Linked DNA regions of Homo sapiens: region 1 is linked to region 2. The links come from fine-mapping of genetic effects on gene expression. A gene starts in region 2. The other region holds a variant in brackets. All regions are shown on one strand. Distances are between the middles of the regions.

Region 1 (5,381 bases), 170 kb before region 2:
CCAACTTTTCACTAGTACTTGTAAAAACACAGCAAAGAATGTCTTTATCACAAAATCTTTGTGCTTATTTCCTCTTACAAGTGAAAATATTGTCATCATTACTCTTAAAACATTGACAATATTTATCAAATACACCCTCTGTGCCAGGTACTTTACAAAACATTATTTAATCCTCCCCCAAACCCTACTATTTACAGATGAGGAAACTGACTTTGGAGATGCTGAGTCATTTGTCTGAGGTTACCATTAGTCATGCCTTTAATGTTTTTGATACCTATTGGCAAATTGCCTTCTGGAAACAGGGTTTGGAATGCTGTAGGGAATACTAGAAACCTGTTGTTTCAGATAAATCCTCCATGAAGGAAAGATTACACAATCTCCTTTAGTGAGCTATTCCCGTTTTATCGGCCTGTCAACATTGTTTTCTCCATTATGTTTACCCAAAACCTTTGTGATAATATAATTACCTATACTACCGGGCAGTGAGGTATCTTTTTGATTCACAATCTCATCAGACTGTATTCCAGAGAAGCAGAACATTCTGGGGCTCAGAGTCCTAAAACATGGGTTTCAACCTGATTTTATCTTTCCTGGAGTGAGGTCCTGAGACACATCAGTTTACTTACCTAAGACTTGGCTTTCATATAAAATGGCAAAACTAATACGAACCTAACTGATCTCCCAGCGTTGTGATGGTGGGATGAGATGATGAAATTGAAAGAGCTTTGCATGCTGGAAAGAACAATAGAAATGCAAGGTATTGTAATTATCAATGGCATCATCATGATCATCTCCATCCTTAAATCTATTACCTTGCTCTTATTCAGGCCTTTGCTTTCTTAGACAGAACCAACTTGCTTTTTGATACCAATTCATATGTAAAACAAACATTTTATCTAAATTCATATAGAACAAAGGGAGGCATCTTTTACTGGCACCTGTTGGTAGCAAGCGTTAGGGAGCCTTGTTCTTTTGGACTAGTGACTGAGAGAAATGAAAGCTTGAGATAAAGATGTGGGTAGATCCTGAGAAGAGACAGAAAAGACCAGAGGCTGGGAGCCACAATTGAGAGAAGTGCCCATTCCCCAGGAAGCAACAAACGGTGGTGCTTTTACTAAGTGAAAACAATCAGAGCAAAATAAAATAAAAGATGGGAGGGAAAGGAAGATAAAAGAAGAAAATGGAAATCAGAAAGGAATGAACTGTGGTATTGAGGGATACTTGGGGTGACAGTTGGTAAGAAGGCGCAATTAATTGAAATTTAGACCAGGCTGATATAACTGGATCATACATTCCTGTGCCTGTATCCAGAGGATAGTGCATTCGAGAAAGTACTAATAGGGAAATGGAACCAGACCTGTATAAACCTTCGGGCTTCGACTATAATTAGGTTTGCATCTCATTGTCTTAATCTTTAAAAGAAAGAAGTTCCTGTACATATCTGGGCTTTCTAGTCCTGAATTCTACAATTATCTACAGTATTTTCTATCAAATTCCTTTGTCCACCAGGCTATGAAAATTTCTTCTTCTCTTTCCAATACTCTGGACTTTAAAATCACTGAAATCTCATCCTGAAGGGACAGAAGAGTCAATTTAGAGCACCCAGTATGTTATTCAAGTTGATGTGGTCCAAAGTGCATTTTGTCTTCCTGGAAACCACAACACAACATGAAATAAAGGCTTTACAGGAGAATCCATTCATACTGCCTACAGGGTCTGAGGATCTTGAGAAATCTACTGTGCAGAGAAGTTAAATTTTTAAATTTAATTTCTGCTTGCTAATTAGTCATTCCCAAATAAAAAGAAAAAGAGAGGTTAATCTAATACAGGCTTTGAAACAAAGCAGAAGATTAAAGTTAACTTCTCAGGAAGAATTCTGAGGACAGCACAAAGAGAAGGGAAAAATGGATAATTGATATCAAGCACGACTTCTCAGAAAAAAAAAAACTTGAATGATTGTAAATGGAACTATTCTGTGCCATAATTTCTTAAAGATGTATTTCCCCACTAAGGATGGATATGAGACTAATGGCTTTCCTTTCCTCTCTTTAATCAGAGAGCTAGATGTCATTTAACTGCCAAATTCTTGCAACGTTATTATTTGGGTTTAAAAAGGCAAAATGGCATGTTTCTACAAACGGTTTGAGACTGTAAAAATGCAAATAACTCAGCCTAATTTACAAATTGGTGGGCGAGGGGGCTGAGCCCAGAGAAGTGTTCAATCACTAATTTTCCCATTCTGCCAGAGCCAAAGAAGCTGTTGCATGGATCTCTGATTTTTTGCGTGGAAAACTGGCACTTGGTTTTCCAGCCTGTCATTTCAGATTGAAAAGCTTTGTCTTAAATCCTTCAGACATGAAGTTGGGCAATGATGCCTGTGAGTAAATTCAATTCCTGGAACCAAATAGATGAAAAAAAAATTATAATGATAGGAAGCTACGTGTCTTCAAAGTGGTATTTTAGAAAGAAATTTATTGGAAATGATGAGAACGTAATTTAAAAAGTGTATCATCTCGGTTATAGGAGCTGAGCTGGGTTTTACAGAGTTACCGCGAGGATTTCTGTTGTGGGAAAATACCCAGGAAGTGACTGAGCCCAGCCAGACGTCACTGGAGACATGCAGAAGAAAAGGCAAGATTGGTTGTGACTCTCCTCTTCTGGGAACATTCTAGAAAGGGGTAGCAAGGATGCTGAAACCAGGCCAGCTCCATAAGACCTCACTTTGCAGAAATAGAGAGAAGTAAGGGGTGTAGGTAGGAAGAACAGAGTGGTACTGAGAAGTCTCAAGGAAGAGAGCGAAGGGGAAGAGCAGCATAGAAAGTGTGGCTGCATTTGCGTGGTGGTCTTACTGCGTACAATGGTTGAGTTCCATGGTCCTTGTCAGCCTCCCTCACAGGGGGAATGCGCAGATCTCTGAAAAAAATAGCTCCCTCTTCAGCCTGCCCCGAAATCCCCACCTATTTCCACAACAGGGAGA[A/G]TGCAAATTTTCCTGCGGAAAAGCAAATAAACTGTTTTTAGGAATGAATGTTGAAATAAATTAAACCTTGATGACTCATTCATGTCTTGGAAAATTTTTATTTACCAGAAGTTATCTCTTTTGCAGGAATTCTGAAAAAAAGAAGTATTTTTTATAATCCATTTTATTTAATTAATTAATTCATTATTTATTTATTTACTTTTGAGATGGGGTCTTGCTCTGTCTCCCAGGCTGGTGTGCAGTGGCACGATCTCAGCTCACAGCAGCCTCCACCTCCTAGGTTAAAGCAATTCTCCCACCTCAGCCTTCCTAGTAGCTGGGATCACAGGGGCATGCCACCATGCCTGGCTAATTTTTGTATTTTTAATAGAGATGGGGTTTCATCATGTTGGCCAGGCTAGTCTCGAACTCCTGACCTCAGGTGATCCACCCACTTTGGCCTCCCAAAGTGCTGGGATTACAGGTGTGACCCACTGCCCCTGGCCCATTATTTTCATTTCAATGGTGGAGAGAAGAACATGGGACAAACTTGTAAAGGGTTGTAGTCATGTATTTAACAAGTGTTTACAAGCACCCACTCTGCAAGGTCTTATACTTGAAGTAGAGACTTTCAAAGAGCCTTAAGGCACCATCACTGTCCTCAGGGTCTTACATCTCCTTAGAGATCTCAATAAAACCTGAACTGTATGGAAGGAAACACTCAACAGAAGGCAGGATATAAATCCCAAATGAAAAGCAGAAGGGGTTCTAAGTGCCAGAAGTCAAAGGGGAGAGAAGACCTTCAAGGAGGTTCACAGCTATCCCAAGAGAGGGGCTTAAGTACATTACTGCTAACAGCACAGACAATGCAAAAAGGGAAGGCGGGCGTGGGGCCAAGGAGGGGCTCAGGAAAAGGCTAGCTGGGGGATGAGGACACACAACACAGGAAAACAACCCATGGAATAAGAAAGAGAGCTCCTAGGGGGAATTCAAAGATGGGAACCAGACTTGAACAGACCAACAGCAATACTTTTAGCAATGCAATTTTGTCTAACAGAAAGACAGCGTACAATCTTGGAGTCAGATAAACAGCTATCTTGTGTTGGGCCCAGTGTAGCGCCTTGGTGTCCTCATTTGTAAAACTGGGATAAAAACCCTTATCTCAAAGGATAGCAAAGGATAAGTTACACAGCAATGGGTCTGACACATAGTGGGACCTTCACACAAGTTCAGTCCCTTCCTCTGACCTCCAGATCTTTTCATCCTGCTCCCCATCACACTCAATAAACTTGAAAAAGAAAGAACATTCACCATACTTTTTTGGTTAGGTTGATCCATAAATCACTTCTTTTTCTTTTTTAATAGGGACAAGGTCTTGCTATGTTGCCTATGCTGGTCTCAAACTCCTGGGCTCAAGTGATCCGCCTCAGTCTCCCAAAGTGCTGGGATTACAGGAGTGAGCCACTGCATCCATCCCCATAAATTGCTTCTATAAACGGTCTTTGGGAAAAGGAAATAGTGGAAGTATAAAAGTCTACTCTGAATATTTGGGGATATAACATCTCCTAGGATCTGTCCTTCAAGAAAAACCACTATTAGGAATAATATAGAAAACAAATATTTTATATGCACCCTGAATGGAGGGCATTATTAAATCCCTTGTTAAAGTTAGCACTTTCCAAGTAGGAATTTTGTTTGTAAAATAAGTTTTGCACAGCTGGTGTCAAACCCCTTTCCTTGCTCCCAATATTCTAATAATTGCAATCAGCTTTGGTGATTTCTCAGAGGTGAATTACAGTAACTCTTCCTCCAAGCCTTACAACAATTTTCCCTCATTTTTTATCATTATTACTCAAAAATGCTGATGCTTTTAAGAGGCAACTCCTCCATACAGTTAGGATTCTCCACCAACTCTGCATTCTTGTCTTCATCCTAAAGGCCATGTAGAAGGAAGAAGGTGATAGAAGAAGAAAATTTCACAGTAAAAGTCAAAATTTTACCTAGGTACTACCTTATATGTATTCAGCTTTGTGGGTTTTTGTTTGTTTTTTTGCAGTTAGCTTTTATGTCTTACATACAAGATTTGTAAATTAAGAACTAGTTTCTACATCCCTGAGGTTTTTGGCACCTGTTTTTTCCCTCCCTATATTACCACTACCATCACGATTCAATTGCTCTGGAAAAGATATCTGTCAATACTGTCAAAGAACAAAATTTCAACACATTGAGTTTTGAAGATTGAATTGACTTTTATTAGTTATCCATGCAGTGGGAAACCTCCCAGCAATGAAATAGAAAGACACTCTGCTGAGCAGAGAGGCTGGGCCTTATAGGCAGAAAAGCCTCAAGAAAGTGGAGACAAGGAACAAGAAGCAGATTTGTCATTTCCCTGTATGGGTTAAAGCAGAAGGGACTTCCTAATCAT
Region 2 (5,381 bases):
TTGTTTAATTACCTACCTCATGCTAAAAGGTAAAATAAATGGAGTATTGCACAATGACTTAAGATTTAATCTGGGAATGGACTCTGTGAGGCATATAATAATCAGATGTGTTAGAAGCACCTGAAACATAGTAGTGGATAGTAGTGGATCTAAAGCTGTGAAAAAGGAAATGATGATAGTTCTCACTCCACTGAACTAGGATCAGTGTTCCCATGGACCTAGATGTGTTTCTCTCCACACCAAGACTGTCAATCCAGGTTCATTGTCCCAAGAGACTCCCCGACTACTGCTTACCATCCACCACACTTGTTTCACTTGTTTCAAAGATATAAACCTTGGCCATGCCATTAATAAGTGGGCAGAAAAGAGTTTCTGAAGGGAGACTGGGACTTGCCTCATTATAAATGCTAACAGTAACAAACTTTTATTTAGTCTCTCTCTTCCTCTTAAAACACACACACAAGGAACCAGAGTGTCTGTAGGATGAATTCCCAGGCCATAGCAACTGCAATGTCCTGAGATCTAAGCAGTTCTTGGCTGGCCAGGCGTTAAGCCCTTTTGGGGAAGGAGACAGCAAGCCTGCTTTTCCCTTACACAGCCCTGTCGTGAAAACAAGCTCTTGTTTCTTGGGGGTTTTTTTGTTCGGTTTTTAGCTAAGAATTTCCATCCCTCCTGCAGTGATAAAAGATAGGCAAGGGAAGCTCAAGGGTTTGATCTCAAATTTTCTTCCACCTAACTTGCCCCTTCACCCCAATATTTGGAAATAAAGGGAGGGAATTTGGGGGAAGTTGAGGGTAAGTTTTTGGTCAAGATGATTGACCCGAGATGTGGATGCAGCTTAGACGATGAGGGAGACTGCACCACCCTGCAGGGTCACCTGCCTAGCCACAGGTAAACGAGGGATCGGAAAGACTGTAGAAAATTCATCTTCCTTCACACACATCTCCTTCCCCCTCCCCCCATTCCAGTGCCGGCGCGCTGGCTGGCTGGAAGCCGGCGCTTTGGAGGCGCCGGAGAGTGGGTCTAAGGGTGATATTTCGGCATACAGAACCTGAGACCCCACCCGAGCCAAGAGGGAAGAGAGAGGGTAAAGGGATTGAGGAGGGGGCGGCTTGCGCCCTGCTCGGGAATGCACCGCGCGACAGCACCCGGAGGTCTCCGGTGTCCGGCGCGCACCGGTACCACTGTCTTCCACTGCGGTAGCATCCCGACATGACATTGCAGCTGCAACAAAGCGCCGGCCTCGGCCGGCCGTGGGAGCCCCACACCGCGGCGAGGCCCCACACCACGCAGAGGGGCAGTGGCCGATGGGTGGGGGGCTGTGGCTGCGGGCGTGGGGAGCGCGAGGTAGGCCGAGTAGGGGGAAAAGCCCTCAAATGCGCAGAAGCTGGGCGGCTACCTCTAGCGTCTCCTCCAGCAAAGCCAGACTGCAAGGAAAACAATTCGTCTTCATTCCCCAGCCCCGGCTGAGCCCTGAGATTCCCCCAAATAACCTAGTCGAGGCCCTCTGGTGTGTTGCCTTCCCTTGGAAACCCCTCAGTGCCCGTAACCCAGTCGGCCGGGCCCCGCGCCTCCCTAAGCCCCGGCCCGGTGACCCGCCCGGCTCCCGGAGAGCGGTTCCTTCTGCTCCGGCGCCGCCGCCACCCCCGGTCCACGCAAGCGCTCACCAGGAGAAGGGAGCCCGCGATCATCGTGGCTGTGGCTCGGCGGGCGATGCGGCTGCAGGAGGCGAGGGCGGTGCTGCTGCTCGGAGAGGTCCCCATGGCTGAACCGGGGACTCGCAGGGGCGCCCGGGGCGCGCGGGGCAGCTGGAATCGGCGGCTGCTTCTGCCCAGCGCCGCATCCACCGCCGCCTCCCGGGCCGGGAGCCCATCTACCTCCAACACCCCATGTGCACTGCTGCGGCCGGGCAGAGGAGGGAGGCGGCAAGGGAGGCTCTAGGGGCGCTCAGCACCTGCCCAGCGGCGCGGCCGCCCAGGCGGGGAGAAGCCGCCGCGACTGCAGCCCGCGTCTCCGGGTGCTCTCCTCCGACAGCGGCTGAGGAGAACCAGGGAGGAGGACTGGGCGCGAGAGAGCAAAGGAACGACTTCCCATAGCGAAGCTTCCAGCCACTGCCAACCACCCTCCTCCGCTGCCCAGACTGGTCGGCGAGGGACTGAGTCGGTGGCCACCGGGCGCAGGGACACACGTGGTGGCGCCGAAGGGGCGGGGGACCGGCCCTTTGTGATGTCACCCGGGAGGAGGCCGGGCTCTTTGTGCGGTTGGAAAGGCGAAGGCGTTCCAGGTAGAGCGGGGAGGGAGAGGGTGCCCCTTGGCGTTCGCTGAGGAAATTGCACGCGCCTGTTGACCCAGGGAAAGCGCTGAGAAAGCATCTCACTCCTGATCTAACTTTACTTATTTTTTCCGAGATAATTCCAACTAAATTATTTCAGCTACATACGCCTTTCCATTGTTTCGGACACGATGATTAAATCAGAGAGCGATGGTGAATAGACCACAGAGCACTTAGATCAACTGCGTGACGAAAAAGGAGACCTGTGTGTTGCTTCTCAAACTTTGCTGCCCTGTGGAATCACCTGGAGAGTTCAAAACATATATATTGATTCTTGGGTCCCACCTCTAGAGACTCTGATTTAATTGGAACAGGACAGGATCTGGTCTGGGCATTGAGGTTTGTTGTTGTTGTTGTTTGTTTGTTTTTTAAGTTTTCAGGGTGATTTTAATATGGGGCAAAGATTTTAATTTTTTATATTTTAATTTTAATATGGGCTTATGAATGCAATTAAGGAAATCCAAACTAAAAGGATTTAAAACCCAGAGTCATTGGTGTTGGGTCCATGGATGGTCTTGGAGGGACTTTTGAACTCCTTGAAATGTATCAAAAGATGCATTTTCCTAATTTAAAAATCAAGAGTTTTGAATCGGATTATCCCTGAGATTTTTTTTAATCACCCTTCCCCCAAAAAATAATGCTAAAAATTTTTGAGTTGATTTCCAAAGGCCTTGTCAGGATGTGGGTGGTAGAATAGGTAGTATTCTGCTTCAGAAGGAGAACTGGAATATTCTCGTGGATGTTGGTATCTCACACACTTCTGAATGTAAGAGAGCAGCTGTTATCCTTTTCTTTGTTTCACCTGGGGGAAGGCCGAGTCTCCTGACTGTGGCCACCATTTCTGGTATCGTGTTATCCATCATCTAGGTACTGACAGCACATGGCACACTGTATTGATATTACCTCTTCAGCCATCCAGTCCACACCCCTCAATTGGGAGCCCTATGGTGCTGGGCTTATCCTAGGCTCCTTTGGTCCCATTTCAAAAGAATCACACTTTTTAAACTATCAGTTTCAAGATCCAACACCCAGTGCTAATAAAGGTAACTTGCTAAGTCATAGGTACCAATTATTTGCTTTATTAGTTAACATGTTGTCCTTTGATTCTTTGCTCTATGCACACTTTGGTAGAAGCTAAAATTAATATGAGGGTTAATTCCAATCTATTATTTCAAACATTTGTCAGTATTGTCTATAAATGTTAGAGTGGGAAAAAAGCTACAATATATAACCTCTAGTGAAATTCAAAGGAGTTCTAGAAAATATTACCATTAATTATGGAGTTTTGGGGAAAGGATGATGGTTGGACTTGCCACTCTCTAGCTATTTTCAGAAGTTGAAAGAGTGAGGGATAGATGCTGTGTTTTCATGCATAACTGTATCAATTTTTTCTTCAAAAATTCAAATGACTGGCCAATACTATTATAAGGTTGGGTTGTTTTTTTTTAAGAAGTTACATAGGTATTAAAGAGGAGGAGGAGCTTCAAATACGTTTTTATTTAGTCCATTTTACTCCTTGCATCCAAACTCACATTTTTCGTGGTAATATATGATTGATTTGCTCTAAAGAGTTGGGCAACTTTAGAGTTTAGTGTCTGGGTTACTATGCAGGTATAAGAAGTTCTTCTCAACTATTTGTCTTCCTAAAACTAAAAGAAAATTGTTTATTTGTGCTTGGACCACTTTGAAACTTCATGAATTCCTGGTGTTCCATTGATCATATCAAGTTGAAATTTAATATACATTTTGAGAGATGAAAAAATTTACTCAATTCTGTTTACTACTAACATTTAAATACATGTCCCTCTATAGAGTGATAGATTATAGATAATTTGAATCTAGATGCAGTGTGAAATTTTATTACTTTGAATTGAAATGTATACATGCCTTCCATTTTGAAGTAACAATGCTGCAACCATTAAATAATTCATTGCCACATTTTCAATGTGGTAACTTAGACATGTCTGTTTTCTGGGAAAGGATAAAAATTCAATGATACATAAGGAAGTTTCTCCCAAAGTTCCAAGGAAAGAGGAGATATGTGTTGATAAATCATAATTATAGCTAAATTTTAAAGGAAGGCCTAAATGAGTTAATCCAATGTCATCTTTGCCATAAAAATTACTCTATCTCCACCCTCCATCCTACCTTTGGACTTTCTCTCTTTCTGCCAATGTTGTACAATTTTTCTAGTTTTCCAACCTCAAAAATCATTGCTAATTCTTTCCTCGTCCTTAGTACATTCCAATTAATGCTTTCCTAACCTTTCATTTTTTTCTATTTTATCTTTCTTGTTAAAAATCTGATATATACATCTGGATACTGAAGAAATCACCAGAGATTGCGCCACTGCAGTCCGCAGTCCGACCTGGGCGACAGAGCGAGACTCCGTCTCAAAAAAAAAAAAAAAAAAAAAAAAAGAAATCACCAGATTTACCATCTTGTCTTAATTATTTTTTTAACTTATCCTGCACACTTTCAGAAGGTCTAGTAAAATTTCATGTTCTTTATAATGAAAATAACAATTGTCCACATTTTGAGAAATGACTGCTGCATGACAAACATCCTGAGCCGATCTATGAGGGAATGACAGAAAGTTGGCAGGAAAATGCCAGCTCCGTTGGGGAGACCCTAACCCAGTGGCGCTAGAGGAATTAAAGACACACACACAGAAATATAGAGGTGTGAAGTGGGAAATCAGGGGTCTCACAGCTTTCAGAGCTGAGAGCCCCGAACAGGGATTTACCCACATATTTATTAACAGCAAACCAGTCATTAGCATTGTTTCTATAGATATTCGATTAACTAAAAGCATCCCTTATGGGAAACGAAGGGTGGGCTGAATTAAAGGAATAGGATGGGCTAGTTAACTGCAGCAGGAGCATGTCCTTAAGGCACAGACCGCTCAAGCTATTGTTGGTGGCTTAAGAATGCCTTTAAGTGGTTTTCCGCCCTGGGTGGGCCAGGTGTTCCTTGCCCTCATTCCTGTAAACCTGCAACCTTCCAGCTTGGGCGTTAGGGCCATTATGAACATGTTACAGTGCAAAAG

Direction of the effects. Positions count from the first base shown, and alleles are read on the strand shown. Sizes are in standard deviations (SD) of each study's normalised expression.
In carriers of allele G in region 1, the expression in monocytes after R848 of the gene that starts at base 2,157 in region 2 tends to be lower than with A alone (small effect, 0.35 SD a copy in Quach 2016).

What was found. PIP is the estimated chance that this variant, and not a neighbour inherited with it, causes the effect.
Region 1: its variant is the best candidate, but not a certain one, in a credible set for the expression of TNFRSF21 in monocytes after R848 (Quach 2016, PIP 0.78).

What each region holds. Positions count from the first base shown.
Region 1 is chr6:47,135,658-47,141,038 of GRCh38, forward strand. LOC105375081 (a long non-coding RNA gene) reads right to left here and starts at 3,039. Exons shown (of 5, transcript XR_926864.3): 1 at 2,857-3,039; 2 at 670-732. The variant A/G (reference allele first, on the strand shown) is at 2,978.
Region 2 is chr6:47,307,749-47,313,129 of GRCh38, forward strand. TNFRSF21 (TNF receptor superfamily member 21) reads right to left here and starts at 2,157. Exons shown (of 6, transcript NM_014452.5): 1 at 1,668-2,157. The coding sequence starts at 1,763. RefSeq lists enhancers at 1,108-1,830, 1,994-2,173, 2,125-2,419 and a silencer at 1,624-1,853.